Linked DNA regions of Homo sapiens. The protein of the gene in region 1 purifies or fractionates together with the protein of each later gene. This does not show direct contact. Each region holds a gene or a part of one and is shown on either strand. Other genes may lie near its edges.

Region 1 (9,976 bases):
AACAACCACACAAACAGGCCAACATAATAACCAGCAAACAGCACAATGACAGGATCAAATCCACACATATCAATACCAACATTGAATGTAAATGAGCTAAATGCCTCACTTAAAAGGCACAGAGTGGCAAGCTGGGTAAAAAAGCAAGACCCAATAGCATGCTGTCTTCAAGAAACCCATCTCACACATAATGACACTCATAGGCTCAAAATAAAGGGATGGAGAGAAATCTACCAAGCAAATGGAAAACAGAAAAAAGCAGGGGTTGCAATCCTAATTTCAGACAAAACAGATTTTAAACCAACAAAGATAAAAAAAGACAAGGGAAGGACATTACATAATGGTAAAGGGTTCAATTCAGCAAGAAGACCTAACTTTCCTAAATACATATGCACACAACATAGGAGCACCCAGATTCATAAAGCAAGTTCTTTATGAATCTGGGTGCAAAAAGACATAGACAGCCACATAATATTAATAATGTGAGACTTCTATACTCCACTGACAATATTAGATCATTGAAGCAGAAAATTAACTAAGATATACAGGACCTAAATTCACCATTGGAACAAATGGGTCTGCTAGACCTTTACAGAAGTCTCCACCCAAAAACAACAGAGTGTACATTAATCTCATTGCCACATGGTACACACTTTAAAATTGACCACATAATTGGACATAAAACAATCCTCAACAAGTGTAAAAGAACCGAAATCATACCAAACACACTCTTGGACCACAGCACAATAAAAATAGAAGTCAACACAATGAAAATAAAACCATACAATTACATGGAAATTAGACAACATACTCCTGAATGACTTTCAGGTAAATAATGAAATTGAGGCAGAAATCAAGTTATTTGAAAATAAGGAGAACAAAGATACAACATACCAGAATCTCTGGAACATAGCTAAGGCAGTGTTAAGAGGGAAATTCATAGCACTAAATGCCCACCTCACAAAGTGATAAAAGATCTCAAATTAACAACCTAACATCACAACTGAAAGAATTAGACAAGCAAGAGCAAATCAACCCCAAAGCTAGCAGAAGACGAGAAATAACAAAAATCAGAGATGAACTGAAGAAAACTGAGACATGAAAAACCATTTAAGAGATCAGCGAATCCAGGAGTTGGTTTTTTGAAAAAAGTTAATGAAATAGGCCAGGCGTGGTGGCTCATGCCTATAGTCCCAGCACTTAGGGAGGCTGAGGTGGGCAGATCACTTGAGGTCAGGAGTTTGAGACCAGCCTGGCCAACATGGTGAAACCCATCTCTACTAAAAATGCAAAAATTAGCCAGGCATGGTGGCATGTGCCTGTAATCCCAGCTGCATGGGAGGCTGAGGCAGGAGAATGCATGAACCCAGGAGGCAGATGTTGCAGGGAGCTGAGATTGCACCACTGCACTCCAGCCTGGGTGACAGAGCGAGACTTCATCTCAAGAAAAAAACTAATGAAATAGGCTAGTAGCTGCAGTAATTAAGAAGAAAATAGAGAAGATCCAAATAAACACAATTAGAAATGACAAAGGGAATGTTACTACTGACCCCACAGAAATAAAACAACCATCAAAAACTACTACAAGCACTACACACATGAACTAGAAAACCTAGGAGAAATGGATAAATTCCTGGACACATAAACCCTCCCAAGACTGAGCTAGGAAGAAATTGATTCCCTGAACTGACTAATAATGAGCTCTGAAATTGTATCAGTAATAAATAGCTTACCAACCAAAAAAGCCCAGGACATGATGGACTCACAGCCAAATTCTACCAGACATACAAAGAAGAGCTGGTACCATTCCTACAGAAACTATTCTAAAAAATTGAGGAGGAGGGATTTCTCCCCAACTCATTCTACAAGGCCAGCATCATCCTGATACCAAAACCTAGTAGAGACACAACAAAACAAGAAAACTTCAGGGAAATATCCTTGATGAACATTGAATCCTCAACAAAATACTTGCAAACCAAATCCAGCAGCACATCAAAAAGCTAATCCACAATGATTAAGTAGGCTTCATCCCCGGGATGCCAGGTTGGTTCAACATGCAAACATCAATAAATGTGATTCATCATGTAAACAGAATTAAAGATAAAAGCCACATGATTATCTCAATAGAAGCAGAAAAGTCTTTTGATAAAATTCAACATTGCTTCATGTTTAAAACTCTCAATAAACTAGGTATTGAAGGAATATACCTCAAAATAATAAGAGTCATCTATGACAAACCCACAGCCAACGTTATACTGAATGAGCCAAAGCTGGAAGCATTCCCCTTGAAAACCGGTACAAGACAAGGATGCCCTCTCTCACCACTTACATTCAACATAGTATTGGAAGTCCTAGCTGGAGCAATCAGGCAAGATAAAGGGCATCCAAATAGGAAGAGAGGAAGTCATACTATATCTGTTTGCAGACAACATGATTCTATATCTAGAAAACTCCGTAGTCTCAGCCCAAAAGCTCCTTTAGCTGATAAATAACTTCAGCAAAGTTGCAGAATACAAAATCAATGTACAAAAATCACTAGCATTCCTATACACCAACAACCACCAAACTGAGAGCCAAATCAGAAAGGCAATCCCATTCACAGTTGCCACACACACACACACACACACACACACACACACAACCTAGGAATACAGCTAACCAGGGAGGTAAAAGATCTCTACAATGAGAATTTCAAAACACTGCTCAAACAAATCAGAGAAGATGCAAACAAATGGAAAAACATCCCATGCTCATGGATAGGAAGAATCAATATCATTAAAATGGCTATACTGCCCAAAGCAGTTTACAGATTCAATGCTATTCCTATCAAACTACCAATGACATTCTTCACAAAACTAGAAAAAAATATTTCAAAATTTATATGGAACCTAAAAAGTGCACGAATAGCCAAGGCAATCATAAGTAAAAAGAACAAAGCTGAGGGCATCACGTTACCTGACTTCAAACTATACTGCAAGTCTACAGTGACCAAAATAGCATGGTACTGGTACAAAAGCAGGCACATAAACCAGTGGAACAGAACAGAGACCCCAGAAATGAGACCACACATCTACATCTGATCTTTGACAAAGCTGACAAAAACAAGCACTAGGGAAAAGACTCCCTGTTTAATAAATGGTGCTGGGATAACCGGCTAGCCATATGCAGAAGTTTGAAGCTGGACCCCTTCCTTACACCATATACAAAAATAAACTCAAGATGGATTAAAGACAAATGTAAAACCCAAAACTTTTTTTTTTTTTGGGACAGAGTCTTGCTCTGTAGCCCAGGCTGGAGTACTCACTGCAAGCTCCGCCTCCCGGATTCTCGCCATTCTCCTGCCTCAGCCTCCAGAGTAGCTGGGACTACAGGTGCCTGCCACCACACCCGGCTAATTTTTTGTATTATTTAGCAGAGAAGGGGTTTCACCGTGTTAGCCAGGATGGTCTCAGTCTACTAACCTCATGATCTGCCTGCCTCAGCCTCCTAAAGTGCTGGGATTACAGGCGGAGCCACTGCACCTGGCTAAAACCCAAAACTATAAAAACCCTGGAAGACAACCTAGGCAATACCATCCTGGACATAGGAATGGTCAAAGATTTAATGGCGAAGACACCAAAAGCAATTGCAACAAAAGCCAAAATTGACAAATGAGATCTAAATAACTTAAGAACTTCTGTACAGCAAAAGAAACTATCAACAGAGTAAACAGACAACCTACAGAAAGGGAGGAAATATTTGCATACTATGCATATGACAAAGGTCTGATATCAAGCATCTATAAGGAACTTAAATTTACAAGAGAAAAACAACCCCATTAAAAAGTGGGCAAAGGACATGAACAGACACCTCTCAAAAGGAAGACATACATACGGCCAACAAGCATATGAAAAAAAGCTCAATATCACTGATCATTAGAGAAATGCGAGTCAAAACCACCATGAGATACAATTTCACACCAGTCAGAATGGCTATGACTAAAAAGTAAAAAAAAAGAAAAAACACGTGCTGGTGAGGTTGTGGAGAAAAGGGAAGGCTTATACAATGTTGGTAGGAGTGTAAATTACTTCAGCCATTGTGGAAAGCAGTATGGCGATTCCTCAAAGAGCTAAAACTACAATTCAACCCAGCAATCCCATTACTGGTTGTAGACCCAGAGGAATGTAAAGCATTCTACCATAAAGACACATGTACACAAATGTTCATTGCAGCACTGTTCACAATAGCAAAGACATGGAATCAACTAAATGCCCATTTATCAGTGACAGACTGGATAAAGAAAATGTGGTACATATACACCATGGAATATTACGCAGCCATAAAAAATAATGAGATTATGTCCTTTGCAGGAACATGGATGGAGTTGCAGGCTATCATCCTTAGCAAACTAACACAGGAACAGGAAACCAAACACTACATGTTCTCACTTATAAGTAGGAGCTAAATGATAAGAATTTATGAACACAAGGAACAACAGACACTGGGGTCTACTTGACGGGGGTGGGTGGGAGGAGAGAGAGGAGCAGAATAGGTAACTATTGGGTACTGAGCTTAATACCTGGTGATATGATAATATGTACAACAAACCCCTGTGACATGTGTTTATGTAACCTTCACGTGTACTTCAAACCTAAAATTAAAAAAAAAGTAACATCAAAGATTACTGATTACAGAGCACTATAACAGATATAATAATAATGAAAAAGTTTGAAAAATTGAGAGAATTACCAAAATGTGACACAGACATTGAGCACATGCTGTTGATAAAAAGGCGCCAATAGGCTTGCTTGATGCAAGGTTGCCACAAACCTTCAATTTGTAAAAAAAAAAAAAAAAATGCAGTATCTATGAAGCAAAATACAGCAAAATGCAATAAAACGTGTGCCCATATATAATATTTTTCATTAATCATATGTGGTTAAGTCCAGTTCCTAAAAATCTAGTTTCTGCTCTCCTTTTGCAGTGTTTTCATGGAAAATTTGTGTTAATGGGAAAAGGTGAGGAAATTTATTTTATGAAAGGAAGTTGTTTTGGTCTAATGCCCTGTGTTATTGGGTGTAGATTTGTGGGAAACAGCAGCTATATGCAGACAGGTCAGCATGGCATGCCTCAAATGGGAACTCGGGATTGGCAGGATGTGAGTCTGAAATAGAGAAGTACATGAGGTGAGGGTTGGCTAGACTACTTCAGCAAAGATTCAGCAGTAACGCATTGTTTTATATCTGTGAGGTTAACAGTCCAAGGTAAGCATTCTGGATAGACAAGTGATCTGGTGCCCACTTGGTCCCTTCCACGGTATTGCTCTGCCACCCCCAGGGCATATATCAGCTGCGTGGCTGAGGGAAAACTGGGAAGTCCAGCAGCTGGGAAAGGGAGAGCACCAAAGGCCATGGCAAGGGGTCTTCTTTTAACCAAGGGATGCCAAAGTGTCCATGTCCCTTGTGGGAACATTTTGTGATGAATAGTCACTTGGCCATATACAGCATGTAAGGTGACAAATGTGATTTTAACTGAACAGCCTGGTGCTCTGGGAAGAAGGAAACAAGTTTAAAGGGGACAGACAGCAATTTCCACCTAATGTGGCTCTGTCGGGATCTGTGTGAATTGCACGTAGCATGTTTCTGTTACACCTCTGTGCCCAGCAACCATTTTCATTGGTTGTGCCAGTGAACAGGGGTAAATTTAATAAGAGCTAGCATGCTGTTATGCTCTCATAGAGTCAGGGCAGCTCTCAAATGGTCATGTTACATCTTGTGGCATGAGAATATTTTATTAAGCACTTCATAACTGTCTAGTTTTCACGTGTGGCTAATTGTAGTGTTCAAATACTATTCTTAAGTCTCACTACCAGTAACTTTTCCTCTGAATTAATTAGGTAACTGTATATTCCAATTTGGGAAATTATTTTTTGCTTGACCTCATTTCTGGTGGTGGTGCTAGTGAGCTGTGAATCTGTCACCAGGCAGCCTGCAGGAAAGGGATGCCAAACATGAAGCAAGAGGCCTATCAAAGACACTGAAATCTGCAGAGTGAACCACACTCTATACTAAGAGTTAACAATGTCTGCAAAGCAGTGTAAAATATCCTAGATATATATTGCTTTAGTTTAGGGCAATGTTTAAGAAATGCAGAATTGTTTGAATATTCATATATTTCATCTTTTGAAAGAATACTACATTGATTATGTAATTTTCTATTGGTATGCCAAAAAGTGTTCTTTATGTCTTCCTAATGTTCTGAAAGTATTTTTCTCCCTTGAGGGTTTCCTTACCCAAAAAATGGCCAGAAGCTGAGAGCATTGGCTTTGATTTTATCTCCACTAGCCAGGTCATGAACTAGTTATATACTTGCAGTATCTTTTTCATATTTCTTATAAAATGGGAAATTTAAGAAGGGTTACTTTGTAACAAGACTGAGAAAAGAATTTTAGGCTCTAAAATGATTTTCCATGATATCTGTATCACCTATTAGAGATCGTAGAACATCTGCGGAGACCTTGAATTTCTGTTACTGTGAATAACTATTTTCTTAGTCTTATTAGTGATAGAATTTGGTTGAGAAAAAATAAAAATTATGCTATCTCTAGCTAGTCATTAGGCGCATTGAATCCTTAGATCCCTTGGACCTCATGTAAGATCATAAAATCTTTTTTTTAAATATATTTTTATTTTTTAAAGAATCGGGGTCTCATTCTGTCGCCCAGACTGAAGTGCAGTGGCGCAGTCTTGGCTCAATGAAGCCTTGACCTCCTGCATTCAAGTTGTCCTCCAGCCTCAGTCTCCCAAGTAGCTGAGACTACAGGCACACACCACTATGGCCTGGCTAATTTTAAAATTTTTTTTGTAGAGGCAGGGTCATGCTATGTTGCTCAGGCTGGTCTCAAACCTCCTGGCCTCAAGCAATCCTCCTGCCTCAGTCTCCCAAACTGCTGGGATTACAGTTGTGAGCCACCACACCCAGCTCAAGATCATTCTTAATTGCAGAGTAATACCTTCTGAAGGAAAGAGGTGGAGGAAAAACTGGAAGGGGTAAGTCTTGCTGTGACAGTAAGTCTGAGCTGCTCCCCTTTGCTTGCTAGGTGGAGGAGGAACTGCAGGAGCAAGACTTCTTGGACCGCTGCTTCCAAGAGATGCTGGATGAAGAAGACCAAGACTGGTTTATTCCCTCACGAGACCTGCCTCAGGCCATGGGACAGTTGCAACAGCAGTTAAATGGACTGTCAGTCAGTGAAGGTCATGATTCTGAAGATATTTTGGTAAGAGCCATATGTAGTTCCCCAGGTTATGTAGTGAAAAGAATATAGGATTTGGAATGACAGACTTTCTTTCCAGCCCTACAACCCTCAACAAGTCTGGAGCCCTGTGAGCTGTTGTTTCTTTGCTCGTTTTATGGGCATTATTAATAAGGGGTGCATTAAAGATGCATTGCTCCTCATAAAGCACTATAAAACATTACTGTTGCCAGCATCACGGGCTTTTTACTTGCCAAGATTGGACGCCACCAACCTTTACTTTCTAATGGGCTCTTCAAAGTAGAATTGGGATTAAGGATAACAATTTGAACACTGAAGAAGTTTCTTCTCAAATATCATTTGTTGCTATTCTTCTCTTTTACTGTCCCTCAAATCTGTATTTAATATACTTCTAAATGATTCTGTTATAAAAATTAGCTGTTCATTTTGGAAGAAATGTACTCCTGAGAGGTCATTTTCTCCACTTAGAATTAGAAAACCAGATAAATTAATTTCCTGCCTTTCATATTTATGTAACATCAGAAGTCTGTGAGCAGGCTGGGCACGGTGGCTCACGCCTGTAATCCCAGCACTTTGGGAGGCTGAGGCGGGTGGATCACCTGAGGTCTGGAGTTCAAGACCAGCCTGGCCAACATGGAAACCCCATATCTACTAAAAAAATACAAAAATTAGCCAGGCATGGTGGTGCGCGCCTGTAGTCCCAGCTTGGAAGGCTAAAGCAGGAGAATTGCTTGAACCTGGGAGGCAGAGGGAGGCGGAGTTTGCAGTGAGCCAAGATTGCACCACTGCACTCCAGCCTGGGCAACAGAGCAAGACTGTCTCAAAAAAAAAAAAAAAAAAAAAGTCTGTGAGCAATATAGTTTTCATACAACTCATATTCTGAACAATCTTGCCCTGTGGTTTGCTAAGGTTTTGGATATTCACAAGAGAGTAGAGAACCAAAGAGAGTACAGAAAGATGAAGAAAAATAGAGATTGTGGTATCCAGCCTGGTCTGATGGAGTACCCTGGTTTTCACCAAGTTAAGGTACTCAGTGAATTGAAAAATTATTCTTGGAGTTGAACTTACAGGCCTCTGATGAGATTTTGGAAAGCATCAGGAAGGAAACAAGAGTCCAAAGAAGGAAGGAGAAGATGAGCTTGCTCAGGGCTATGTCAGGTGCAGTTGAGATAACCTAGCAATAACAGCCTGAGTTACAAGGAATTTTCTTTCTCTCCCTAAAGCTAAGGGGAAGGTACTGATAATGATGGACTGGGTAAGTTTTAAAATGCAGCTTGCCTTAGGATTTACTATCTCTTGGTTCTTATTTCAGAGCAAAAGTAACCTGAACCCAGATGCCAAGGAGTTTATTCCAGGAGAGAAGTACTGAGCCGAGAAAGCTTTGAGGAAGACTTGTCTGTCCCCACATCTGGGGATAGTAATGCACAAAATGGTGGAGCTGAAGAGGGGGATGGGGCGGGCGAGGGGTGCACAGCGGGAAGGGGAGTGGTGGTCTCACAATACTGTGACTCTGAGTAACTAATATGCTCAGTCTTATTCTAAGCCTCTGAGTATTTCTATTTTGTTCTGCTGACTTTTGTTTGGGGAGTTTCCTGTTTTGTTTTTTTAAATAGCTCTTTCGAGTTAAGGAAATTGCATTTTCCCCCCTTCATCAGAAGTGTTCCGCGGTGTGTATTTAAACAAAATAAGCTGACTAAGAAAAACTGGATATTTAGGAAATGCCCCTCTCACCCTGCTGTATACTTATCAGGGACAGTGAGCACCTGGAGAGCTTTTTGTGGAATCTATTGAGTTGGATGGGAAAAGGGACAAGCAGAAAGAGCAGGTGGTGCAAACTGGAATTTGAGGCTCAGCTGCCCCACCCCCGGGGTCTCCTGCAATGAACTCGGATAACCAATGTGCTGTCAAGCCCTTGCCTGTTTGTCCTGAACCCCATTCAAGAAAACACAGACTTAAAGTACTTAGTTTACAGTAACTTTTGATGATTGTTGAAAGTTGTAAATCAGAAGGTAGGGCTGTGATGGTGGTTGTCACTTGAGTCATTTAGTTACTGTTGTCCTGTTCATAAGCCTGTGTTCACCACCACCATCAGACTCACCATTTATAAGTAGAAGAGCACTAGGGTTGATCTGCCACCTCATCTTTCATGAAGTCTATTCCCCAGCCTCCTTTTTAAGAAAAGATACTGCTACCAAAGGCATAGGGGAGGCCTGCTGTGCTGGCAATTAGCATGAGCCTGCAGAAGTCATCCTTGAATCTGTTGTGTCTTAATTTTATTTGGACAGTTTTTTTTTCCAGCCTCATCAACACTTGGTCTTCCTGGTGTCTTAATTCCCTCAGACAAGTTTATGCACTTTTTTAAGGAAATATTTTTCAGGACACTAGTAAGAAGCTCAGTTCACAGTTTGGATATTTCTTCCCACATTACAGAATTATGGAAAGGAACTCAAAATCAGCCTAGGAAAGTGAGTCCTGCTTGACCCATGTGACTGTGTACCTGACCTTCTGGGATCTTTTCAGCTATTAAAACATTTTACTGTTCCCACATACCCAGCTTTGCAAGTTTTGTAGATTGACCTCTTAGGGTGTGTTTCTTTGTCTTTCCTGCCTTTAACTTGCTGGGGTCTTTTGTTGCTACCCCTAAGGAACTAAACTGGGTGCCAGGAGCTACCTTCGTGTATAGAGATGTAGATGGCAGTGTGGGGTACAGGAGAGCCATCCAGG
Region 2 (9,976 bases), on another chromosome or scaffold:
GAAAAGTTCAGCCCCGCGGGGCCTGTGCTGTCCATCCGGGTCTGCCGCGATATGATCACCCGCCGCTCCCTGGGCTATGCCTACGTCAACTTCCAGCAGCCGGCCGACGGTGAGTAGAAGCTGTGCCCACACGTGCGTGGGAGCCCGGAGGACCCCGGGAGTCGTCTTCTGGCAGGGCCCTCCTGCCGAGGAGGGCGGCATCACGACAGCATGTTGCCACCGAAGCTGGGAGCAGGGTGCGGAGATTGAGAACGCGGACCTGGCATCAGATGACTCGAGTTTCAATCTTGTTTCTACCACTTGCTAACTGGGTGACCTTGGGCTACTTATTAGTGTTGCTGGTAGTGGGGTTGGAAACCAAGGAGACTGTAAAACAGGATTAGAGTGAAGCCACTGGCATTCCACTGCGTGTGGTCCTTGTCAGTGGGGCTGGGCTGTTAGAGATCCTTGCTTGTGCCCCTCACAGGCTGGCCAAAAAGGCGGGACGTTTGAAACACAATTCCCCGCGAAAGTTTTACATTGTAAAGCTCCTGCCCGCTCCGCCACCTTTACTAACCTTGACTACCTGATGTTGTGCTGATAAAGGATCAGTCAGGGCAGGCAGGAAGCAGGGGGAAGGTTTCTGTGCGTTAAACTTTCGCAGAGACTTAGGTTAGTGCCACAAAAGCTGCGTGTGCCAGGCCACCTCCTTGGTCTGTGTGTTTGCCACTGGAGTGGAGAAGTGCTTTACTCTGGACAAATGGTATCCAGGCTCTGTGCTGTAGAGTGTCGTGGAGGTAGTTTAGGGAAGCGTCACTTGAAAATCTGGTGTCATTTGTCACCTCAGCTGTAACAGTGCTTTGCACTAGTCAGAGCCCTTTTATTTCATCTAATCTGAAGAAAATGGGACTCCTGAGAAGGAGAACGAATGCAAAAAGTTGGAAGCCAAGTTAGGACTCCCAGCACAGTGCTCTGCCACCTCAGATTGTGGCCTTAGCGTGGAGCATGGAGAGAGGTATGCTGCAGGCGTGGCAGGAGGGAGGCCAGAGGAAACCTGATCAGAGGCTGCACGTGACTCCAGATTAAAAGGGAACAACTGCAGAGATCATTACTGGGAGAAACAAGCCATTCTATGGCAAAGCATCTCCAGGTCCCTAGTTTTGGGGTCCCCCCTTTGTTTTCTGTCTGAGGCCCAGAGTTACTACCTGCCCAGGTTGCGGCTGAGACCAGAGAATTGGACATGTTGAGAGGGACTAGGTATTGCTACTGTCAATCCAGTGTGCTCCAAGCTGAGTTCTGTCCATGGCCATAGGAGCGCAAAGGTAGCTGAGTGTGGTCTTTTTAAGGGATAATGTACCACATTAGCTGTTGTCTGCCTTACTGACTTTTGAACAAAAGTCGTGTCACTTAGAGATAGCAGAAGCTATTGGTCAGTGTGTCTGCCAACACATACTTCTGCAGGACTTCTCCCTGCTATAAATAAGTGCAGCCAGATTTGTCAGACTAAGCCGGCTTGCCTTGTGCAGTGCTGTCTGGAAATAGACGAGGAGCTGTTGTTGAAGTGGGCTCCTTTACTGCTAATTAATGAAATAGTTTGCGATCCCAGCTATCTATCTCTGATAGCCATCACAAGCAAAGTCCTCTTTCCCTGGACTGTTCCTGACTTGGATCGGTCTTGTCATCTCCCCTTTTCCCAACTACCCCCCACACAGATGAGGCCCACCTTCTGAAGGGGGTGGGGAAAGTTGTTGGAAATAATGAGTGAAAATAAATTCTCCCGGCTAATGAAACAGTTGAGCTTGTGGAGCGGCAGAGTTGGGGAATTTTGTCCCCCCTTTAAGTGAGATGTTGTCCTGAGGCAAGGAGCAGGTTCCACTGCTCTGACCCTGTCTAAATCCCCTCATGGAGGAGGTTCTGGGTGATGTCACCGTTAGGAGATGCCATCATAGCCTTAAGGAAAAGTGGCCACCAGATCTGGGCATCCTTGTTGCGATTAGTGATGAGAAGTGTTTTGGCTGGCAGGTGGTGTTATTTTTTAGCTTTTGGTTCTTTTTGTTGTTGTTTGTTTTGAGACACTGTTTCACTCTTGCTGCCCAGGCTGGAGTGCAATGGCGCGATCTCAGCTCACTGCAACCTCTGACTCCTGGGTCCAAACAATTTTCCTGCCTCAGTCTCCTGAGTAGCTGGGATTACAGGCACCCGCCACCATGCCCAGCTAATTGTGTATTTTTAGTAGAGATGGGGTTTTCACCATGTTGGTCAGGCTGGTCTCGAACTCCTGACCTCAGGTAATCCACCCGCCTTGGCCTCCCAAAGTGCTGGGATTACAGGAGTGAGCCACCATACCCAGCCCAGCCTTTGGTTCTTTAAATTGTCTCTGGTGTACACACGGACTTGGTTGGGAAGCTAAGGAAGCATTCCAAGGTGTTGGATGGGGAAGTTGGTTGAGCACCCAGGGTAGCTGAAGTCCTAGAATTCTACAGAACTTCCATTAAGGCTTCAAAAGGTGGGTGCAGGGCCTGCCATCTGCGCACTGTCTACTTAGGCAGAAGGTATGGTGGTTTTATCCTTGTGATAGTACAGAGAACTTTTCCATGTGTGATCAGTTGTGTCCATTTTGATGACTGATGCTTTTTTGTTTAAGTCAATTTCTGTTCTCAGAAATTGAAAATAAACTGGACTGAATTCTGAATTCAGGGATAGCACCTTTTTTTTTTTTTCCAGATCATTTGCTTTACAGGTTTTGTCACTTGTCTCCATAGGTGGATTGCAGACTAAATGACTTGATAACTTTGATGCAATACCTCACTGAAAAATAAATCAGATAATCTAGTATTAGTTTCGTAATTACTAGCTAGCTGCACAGCTTAGTTACCCTAAACATAAGTTTGTTCATTTTGTAAAATGTATAATTTCAGCTGTCCCACCTGAGTCATGGTGGGTGGTAGTCTGCAAAGTCTCTTCTAAGTGGTAAAGCTTAGTCAAATGTGAGGTATTATCACTGGATCTTGGTGTCATTAAGGCCATTTAGATTATCTTTACTTGTGGCCCCTTTATCCAACAAGGGCACAGACCCAGAAGGGTGTTTAGACTTCTGTCATGAAGTAGAGTCATTAGCTGGAACTTATGCTTCCCTTACTAACAGTGCAGGCTGGAGGAATCTGATGCCCTTTTATTTTAATAGAGTTGCCTTTTATCAAGAGTGATTACCTTGAAAAGTCCTGGAGTAATCTGTTCTTAGGCTGTTGGCCTGTGGGAGCTGACGTTTTCTCTCCTTATTGAAATGTGTTTCTCTCTTACAGCTGAGCGGGCTTTGGACACCATGAACTTTGATGTGATTAAGGGAAAGCCAATCCGCATCATGTGGTCTCAGAGGGATCCCTCTTTGAGAAAATCTGGTGTGGGAAACGTCTTCATCAAGAACCTGGACAAATCTATAGATAACAAGGCACTTTATGATACTTTTTCTGCTTTTGGAAACATACTGTCCTGCAAGGTAAACATTGATTAAATGATTTTAGCAGAATAATTAATTGATTCTTGAAAACAAGATAAATACCAAACAGAGAACTATCTTGGAATTGGGGAACAAGATATGGGAATTTTCAAAATGCTGGACATGGAATCCTAAAAGTTCCCATAGGTAATCTCAGGGCCATACCCAGCGTAACCAGCACACGCTTTCATACCCTTGTTCTTTACTCAGCCTGAAATATCCTTCCTATTCTTTAGCTTTGGAAAGCCCACGTTTTTCTTTTGGGATGGGGGAAAGTAGAGGACCAGAGAAGTGTCTCTAGTCTTGAGGAAACTTAATCACTTTAGAAGCATAAATTCACTCTATTCCTTCTACGTATCTGTTCTATGCTGAGCACTTTAAAACTTAAACGGTGGTGGTGTATATGTTTAATGCCATACTACACTGAAAATCTGTTGTGGCCTTGGAAAATGTTTTGTTTTCTGCATCACCGTGGTTTGCACCCAGATCTCTTAAAATGTGTTGTTGTGTTTTAAAGAGACAGAGTCTTGCTCTGTCTGTCACCCAGGGTGGAGTGCAGTGGTCTAGTAATAGCTCATTGTAGCTTCGACCTCCTGGGCTCAAGCCATCCTCCCACCTCAGCCTCCCAAGTAGCTGGAACTACAGGCACGTGCCACCACACTCATTTAATTTTTTTCTTTTTTGTAGAGACAGGGTCTCCATTGTCCAACGATCTGGCTCCAACGATCCTCCTGCTTTGGCCTCCCAAAGCATTGGGATTACAGGCATGAGCCACAGCACCCAATTTTAAGTATTTTTTGTTTGTTTGTTTTTGATAAAAATAAAACATTTGGAATAGAAGCATCTTAGTAGGGCTACCTTTGTAAATGGAACACTTACTAGGCACCTGGTGCTGTGCTAGGTGTTAGAAAAATTATACTGGTGTACTTGACCACCATTGGCCATGGATGGGCTAGAGTCTCCTCAGGCACAAGATACCCTGAGGTTCTCATGTCTCAGGAGCTGGCCAGTTCTGCTAAAGTGGTCCGCCTTGTCTTTGACAGGTGGTGTGTGATGAGAACGGCTCTAAGGGTTATGCCTTTGTCCACTTCGAGACCCAAGAGGCTGCCGACAAGGCCATCGAGAAGATGAATGGCATGCTCCTCAATGACCGCAAAGTGTGAGTGTCCCAGTCCGGAGCAACAACCATCGCATGAGCCAGCCGTGGCCCCACCTCGCTATTAACTGGCACACACAAGGCGGCTACTGGTTCTCGGCCCAAGTGTGGCCTGCTCCTACCTCTCCACTCCAGGGCTGGTGAGTCTCCCTGCCTGAGCCGTGGCAGCCCTTTTGACTCGCCAAGGTGGGCTTCCTGCCCAAGCCATGGCCTGCCTGCCGCCTCTCCCTTAAAGGCATCTGTCTGTGGGTTTTGTGAGCATCAACAACTGGGGCTGGCTGGAAAGCAGCTCTAAGCTCACTCTGAGTCGGGGTCTTGGCCAGCGGCAGAGTGGAGAGGGCCCTGGACTGACCAGGAGCTGTATACTAGCAGTGTGACCTTGGCTTTCCTGTGATTCAGGTCTGTCCATGGGTCCCTCGCTAGTGGTTGATGCCAAATTGTCCCCGCGGTTCTCCATTTTCTAACTTATGACTCAGTGACCTAATACAAGGCTGGCTCCACAGTAATACTTGGTGACAATGAAAAAATCCCATCCCTTTGCAGAAAAACTTCATAACAGACCTTGTTGCTTTGATGTGGTTGTTACTGTAGAATGCAGAGAGGGGGAACTTACCAAAGCCATATGGGGAGAAGAAGAGACAATAAGTCTTGGCTATTACAAGCCAAAATAATTTTTGTCCTTTGTGTCATTCAGTATGCCAGAGGATGGGTTATCTTTATAATGTCTGTGTGTGCAGTGGTTGATCTACAGATATCACTAAAAAGAAATACAAAAATGTCAGTGCATGGATAAATTTTCTTTTAAGTATAACAGACCAAAATAAATAAATTTAAAAAGCAAAGGGTGCCCCTTCACTCCAACAATCTCATATCTAGGATTAACCACTGTTAACAGTTTGGTTTGTATCCTTCCAGACCTTTTCTATGCATTTACATAGTTGCACAGAAATGAACATTTTAAAAACATGGCCATCAGGTTTCTTCATGAAGGCAGTGTGATGTGGTAGGAATAGCCCTGGTCTAAGCCAGGAGCCCTGGGGCTGGTCCTCACAGGATAGTCCTGCCTTTTTCTCTTTCTGCTGGGGACTTGGGGTATCTCTGAGCCTCCTTGGTGGTGGATGGGGATCTCGTGTTTTAACCTCTCCTGTCAGTCTTTAACCTGTATTCCTTTGGGTCCCTGGACATCATGTTTTATTCCTCTGGGTAATTACTGTTCTTCATGGTTTCATTTTAGATTTGTGGGCAGATTCAAGTCTCGCAAAGAGCGGGAAGCTGAGCTTGGAGCCAAAGCCAAGGAATTCACCAATGTTTATATCAAAAACTTTGGGGAAGAGGTGGATGATGAGAGTCTGAAAGAGCTATTCAGTCAGTTTGGTAAGTTGGGGTTCCTTGTCTCCTTTCACAGTCTACCAGACCCATCTGTTTTTTCTTAAGAGATGAGGGCACTGCTCCAGAGATTTGCTTCAAGTGAGTTTCCAGAGGGAAGCCTTCTGTTCCTGAGCTGTGCTCAAGATGGTGTTACTAATAGTTCTGTCCTTTGGTAATAGGTAAGACCCTAAGTGTCAAGGTGATGAGAGATCCCAATGGGAAATCCAAAGGCTTTGGCTTTGTGAGTTACGAAAAACACGAGGATGCCAATAAGGTGAGTATACCACAAAGATTGGGAAAAGCTTTTAAGAGGTTGCCCCAGAGTATGGGTAGGGTCTTGCTAGCACCTACCTAGAGCTGGGACGGTCTGAGTATCTGGTAGTAGATGTACCATTACTATACTCTGGGATCATCTTCCTGGGTTCCGCATGTTAACTTCATGTAGGTGTTTACAAAGCACTTGGCACATACCTGTCACCTCAGCTATCAGTTGTTGAAAGAATAGGACAGACGTTTGTTATGCTGCAAAGGTGAGAGAACTAAAGCCCAGTGAGTGCTGATTTGATAACAGCACGGCAGCTACTTGTGGGCAAAGCATTGTGCCAGACCCTCAATATTTATCACTTAAATACCCACAAAAGCACCTGCAGAATTTACTGGCAGCCGGAATATTATATCGCCCTAGGCTCATGTCAGCACACTTGTGTTTATACACCTGTACTATTTCTATATTATCTGGATCAATAACCCATTTAAATATTAACCTCACTTTACAGATGAGGAAGTTTGGATTTGTGTGACAGACTTCAGAGGTGGAGTGAATTTAGTTTTTAGTCCTATAGTAGAAAGAATATTTTTTGGGACTTAGACCTCCAGAATAAGACCCCATCGCTGCAACTTTATTTTAAAGACATATTTTTCCTCTCTAGGCTGTGGAAGAGATGAATGGAAAAGAAATAAGTGGTAAAATCATATTTGTAGGCCGTGCACAAAAGAAAGTAGAACGGCAGGCAGAGTTAAAACGGAAATTTGAACAGTTGAAACAGGAGAGAATTAGTCGATATCAGGTAAGGTGGTCTTGGCCCAGCCTAGCAATGGGATTTGCTGTGAAATATTTGCAGAACACCCCTATGTTTAGCGGGCTTTCTTTTTGAGGACTTGGAGTGTGTTCTTCTTCCCATTTTACCTAAAAAGATGAGGTTTAAAAGGATATATACCTACTACATATGACTGATTATTATAGAACCAGAAACAAGAGATGGGTTTATTCATCAAGAAGCTCTCTATTTTGGAAGCCTCAGCCTGTTGCTTTTAGCCATGTAGGTTCCTTTTACTTAAATGAGACTCCTTTGTTTGGCATGGCTTCAAGAAGACCCCTGCTGGGGTGGGTGAGTGGTCACCAGAACAGCTGTGGGGAGAGGTGACAAAAGGTGAGTGCACTGATGATCCTGTCAGTTTCAGGGCAGTAGTTTCACAACTTTGGACTTGCATCAGATTCATCAGCAGAGCTTGTTAAAACAGATAGCTGGGCTCCAGCCCCAGAGTTTTTCTTATTCATTGGGTTTGGGGTCTGGCCTAAGAATTTCATTTCTTTCTTTTTTTTTTTTTTTTCTTGAGACAGTCTCGCTCTGTCGCCCAGGTTGGAGTGCAGTGGCACAATCTCGGCTCACTGCAAACTCCGCCTCCCGGGTTCGCACCATTCTCCTGCCTTAGCCTCCTGAGTAGCTGGGACTACAGGCACCCGCCACCATGCCTGGCTAATTTTTTGTATTTTTAGTAGAGACGGGGTTTCACTGTGTTAGCCAGGATGGTCTCGATCTCCTGACCTTGTGATTCGCCCGCCTCGGCCTCCCAAAGTGCTGGGATTACAGGCGTGAGCCACCGCGTCCGGCCGAGAATTTCATTTCTAACAAGTTCCCAAAGATGCTGGTGCTCCTGGTCTGGGGCCACCCTTGGGGAACCACTTTCTTAGGGAATATTTGTGATATAGAAGTGTAGTTAACAGTGATCTTTTTCCTTCAGGGGGTGAATCTCTACATTAAGAACTTGGATGACACTATTGATGATGAGAAATTAAGGAAAGAATTTTCTCCTTTTGGATCAATTACCAGTGCTAAGGTATTATACTGCGATCTGGGGATTGAAAGCAGTGGTATTCCATTATAGGCTTATTGGCATTTGTCCCATTGAAGGAATAGCATTTAAATTATGTTCATTTCTGAAAGTAGCTACTACGTTTTTCTAGCAAAATTTCTGGATGCATTCTGGAGAATGACATTTCATTAGGTTAACATTACACTGTTTCCCAAGCACTGGAGTCTGGAGAGGAATTTGACCCAGCCCCTCCTTGCCAACTCAGAGCACCTGAATCTTTCCCATTCCTTGCTGCCTCGTGCCGGTGTGGGGACAGATGGTGCTACAGAATGAGCAGAGGAAATCCAGACAGGTTGTTTTCCATTTGTCTTGGGGCCTGTCTCTACAGCTCTGCCACATTTTCTCCTTGAGAATGAAGGTATTTTGAAGATTTTGGAGGTGGGCTTGGGAACTTCTACCCTGGTCTTAAAAAGAGAGGAAAGGGGAGTGGAAGGTTTTTCTATGTTTCGTAGTGTGCATCATTTGCTTGATTTTCTTTGATAATCATATCAACTAAGTTAGCAGGGTAAGTAGGAACCTCATTTTAAAGATAAGGAATTTTAGTCCTTGAACAAGAGAATGCTGACTACATGGGGATGGTGTACTGCTTGTCCTTGGCACTTTGGGAGCAGGATGGAAACTGGTGCCATCTGAACATTTTGAGTTATGGCCGGATGCAGACGCCGGTCTTGCTAAACAGGTGTACCAGATGCCACAAAATCCTTTAGTTGATGAGAAGGGAAGCCACGTGGGCTGGTAAGGGCTTAGTGGCCCTGCCCTGGCTCTTAGTGGACTTTGCTCCCAACCTGGGAATGTGGAAAGCAATGTTATCAGTTGTAGTAGGGAGTTGGCCAGAGGCCAACTGTGGGTTTGCCCAGTTCTTACCCTTTCGTTTTTGCTATGACCCCCCCCTTGACTGGCCCTCATCAGTGTAAGGAGTGATCTTCTATCCTTGCTTATCTGCCTAGTAGTCAAGTTGGCATTTGTTAAGAGAGCAGAAGAGCCATACCTTGAATTGTCCCCATTTTCATTATGATGGTGTGGCATTTTTATTCACATACCTTACTGGCCCATCTCATTGGTAGAGAGTTATGGAGTGATGCACTTCTTTACTTCCCTATCCTCCACTTCAGGAGGCTCTCTGGGCCATTAACTAAGACATAAAACAATGACAGTCACACCAGAGAAGACAGTGAATAACCTTGTCTATTAGGAAGAATGCCATTTGTGAATGATGAACTTAATGTGGGAAAAGACTGCCTGAACCAGTAGACCTGTGGTTTTGTAGCTGTTTGGAGTATTTCTTGGAAATTGAGCCTCAGGAAGGCAAGTGAGACTAGAATCTAGGCTGCCTATCTCTGAGCTGGTCATCTCATTGAATTAATGGTGGCAGTCATTGGTTACCTGAACATTTTAGGACTCCTGTCCACACGTGGTATTCCAAAAGTGTTATCCTGACGTTGGTAAGAGCTTGTTAGAGTTTGTCCACCGAGGTCTTGAAGCATATGAGATATGAAAATAAATTGCTCAGTACTACTCTCAAGATGTTTTGTGGTTACCCGGAGTAGCTATCCACCAGGTATCAGGAAACATCTTTGAGTTCCTGGTTTTATTATTAGCCATATCATAGTGTTTCAGAACTTTAGCATCACCTGGGGACTCAAAGAAAACACCTAGATACCTTAGAGGTTGTGACTTAGTTGGTCTGGGGTAAATCCTGTGCCAGAACCCTGACCTAGACTCAGTGACTGCAGCAGAACCCAGGCTTTCTGGTTCTTCTGAATAGTTCCCTCCCCACCCAGGGACATCCTTTTTTTTCCTATTTGTAGGTTTGTTTTGTTTTT

Evidence for each region.
Region 2: the proteins of PAIP2B (region 1) and PABPC4 purify together in Homo sapiens (affinity purification with mass spectrometry; 2 studies listed by BioGRID and IntAct, with this or other methods). This does not show direct contact.

Annotation. Positions count from the first base shown.
Region 1 is NC_000002.12:71,187,124-71,197,099, reverse strand, and holds part of PAIP2B (polyadenylate-binding protein-interacting protein 2B), read left to right. Parts: intron 1-7,078; coding exon 7,079-7,255; intron 7,256-8,564; coding exon 8,565-8,621; 3' UTR 8,622-9,976. UniProt on the Homo sapiens protein: Inhibits translation of capped and polyadenylated mRNAs by displacing PABPC1 from the poly(A) tail.
Region 2 is NC_000001.11:39,565,892-39,575,867, reverse strand, and holds part of PABPC4 (polyadenylate-binding protein 4), read left to right. Parts: coding exon 1-109; intron 110-2,664; exon of another isoform or gene 2,665-2,787; intron 2,788-3,189; exon of another isoform or gene 3,190-3,281; coding exon 3,282-3,475; intron 3,476-4,518; coding exon 4,519-4,634; intron 4,635-5,244; exon of another isoform or gene 5,245-5,388; intron 5,389-5,865; coding exon 5,866-6,005; intron 6,006-6,178; coding exon 6,179-6,273; intron 6,274-6,928; coding exon 6,929-7,066; intron 7,067-8,021; coding exon 8,022-8,117; intron 8,118-8,357; exon of another isoform or gene 8,358-8,494; intron 8,495-9,976.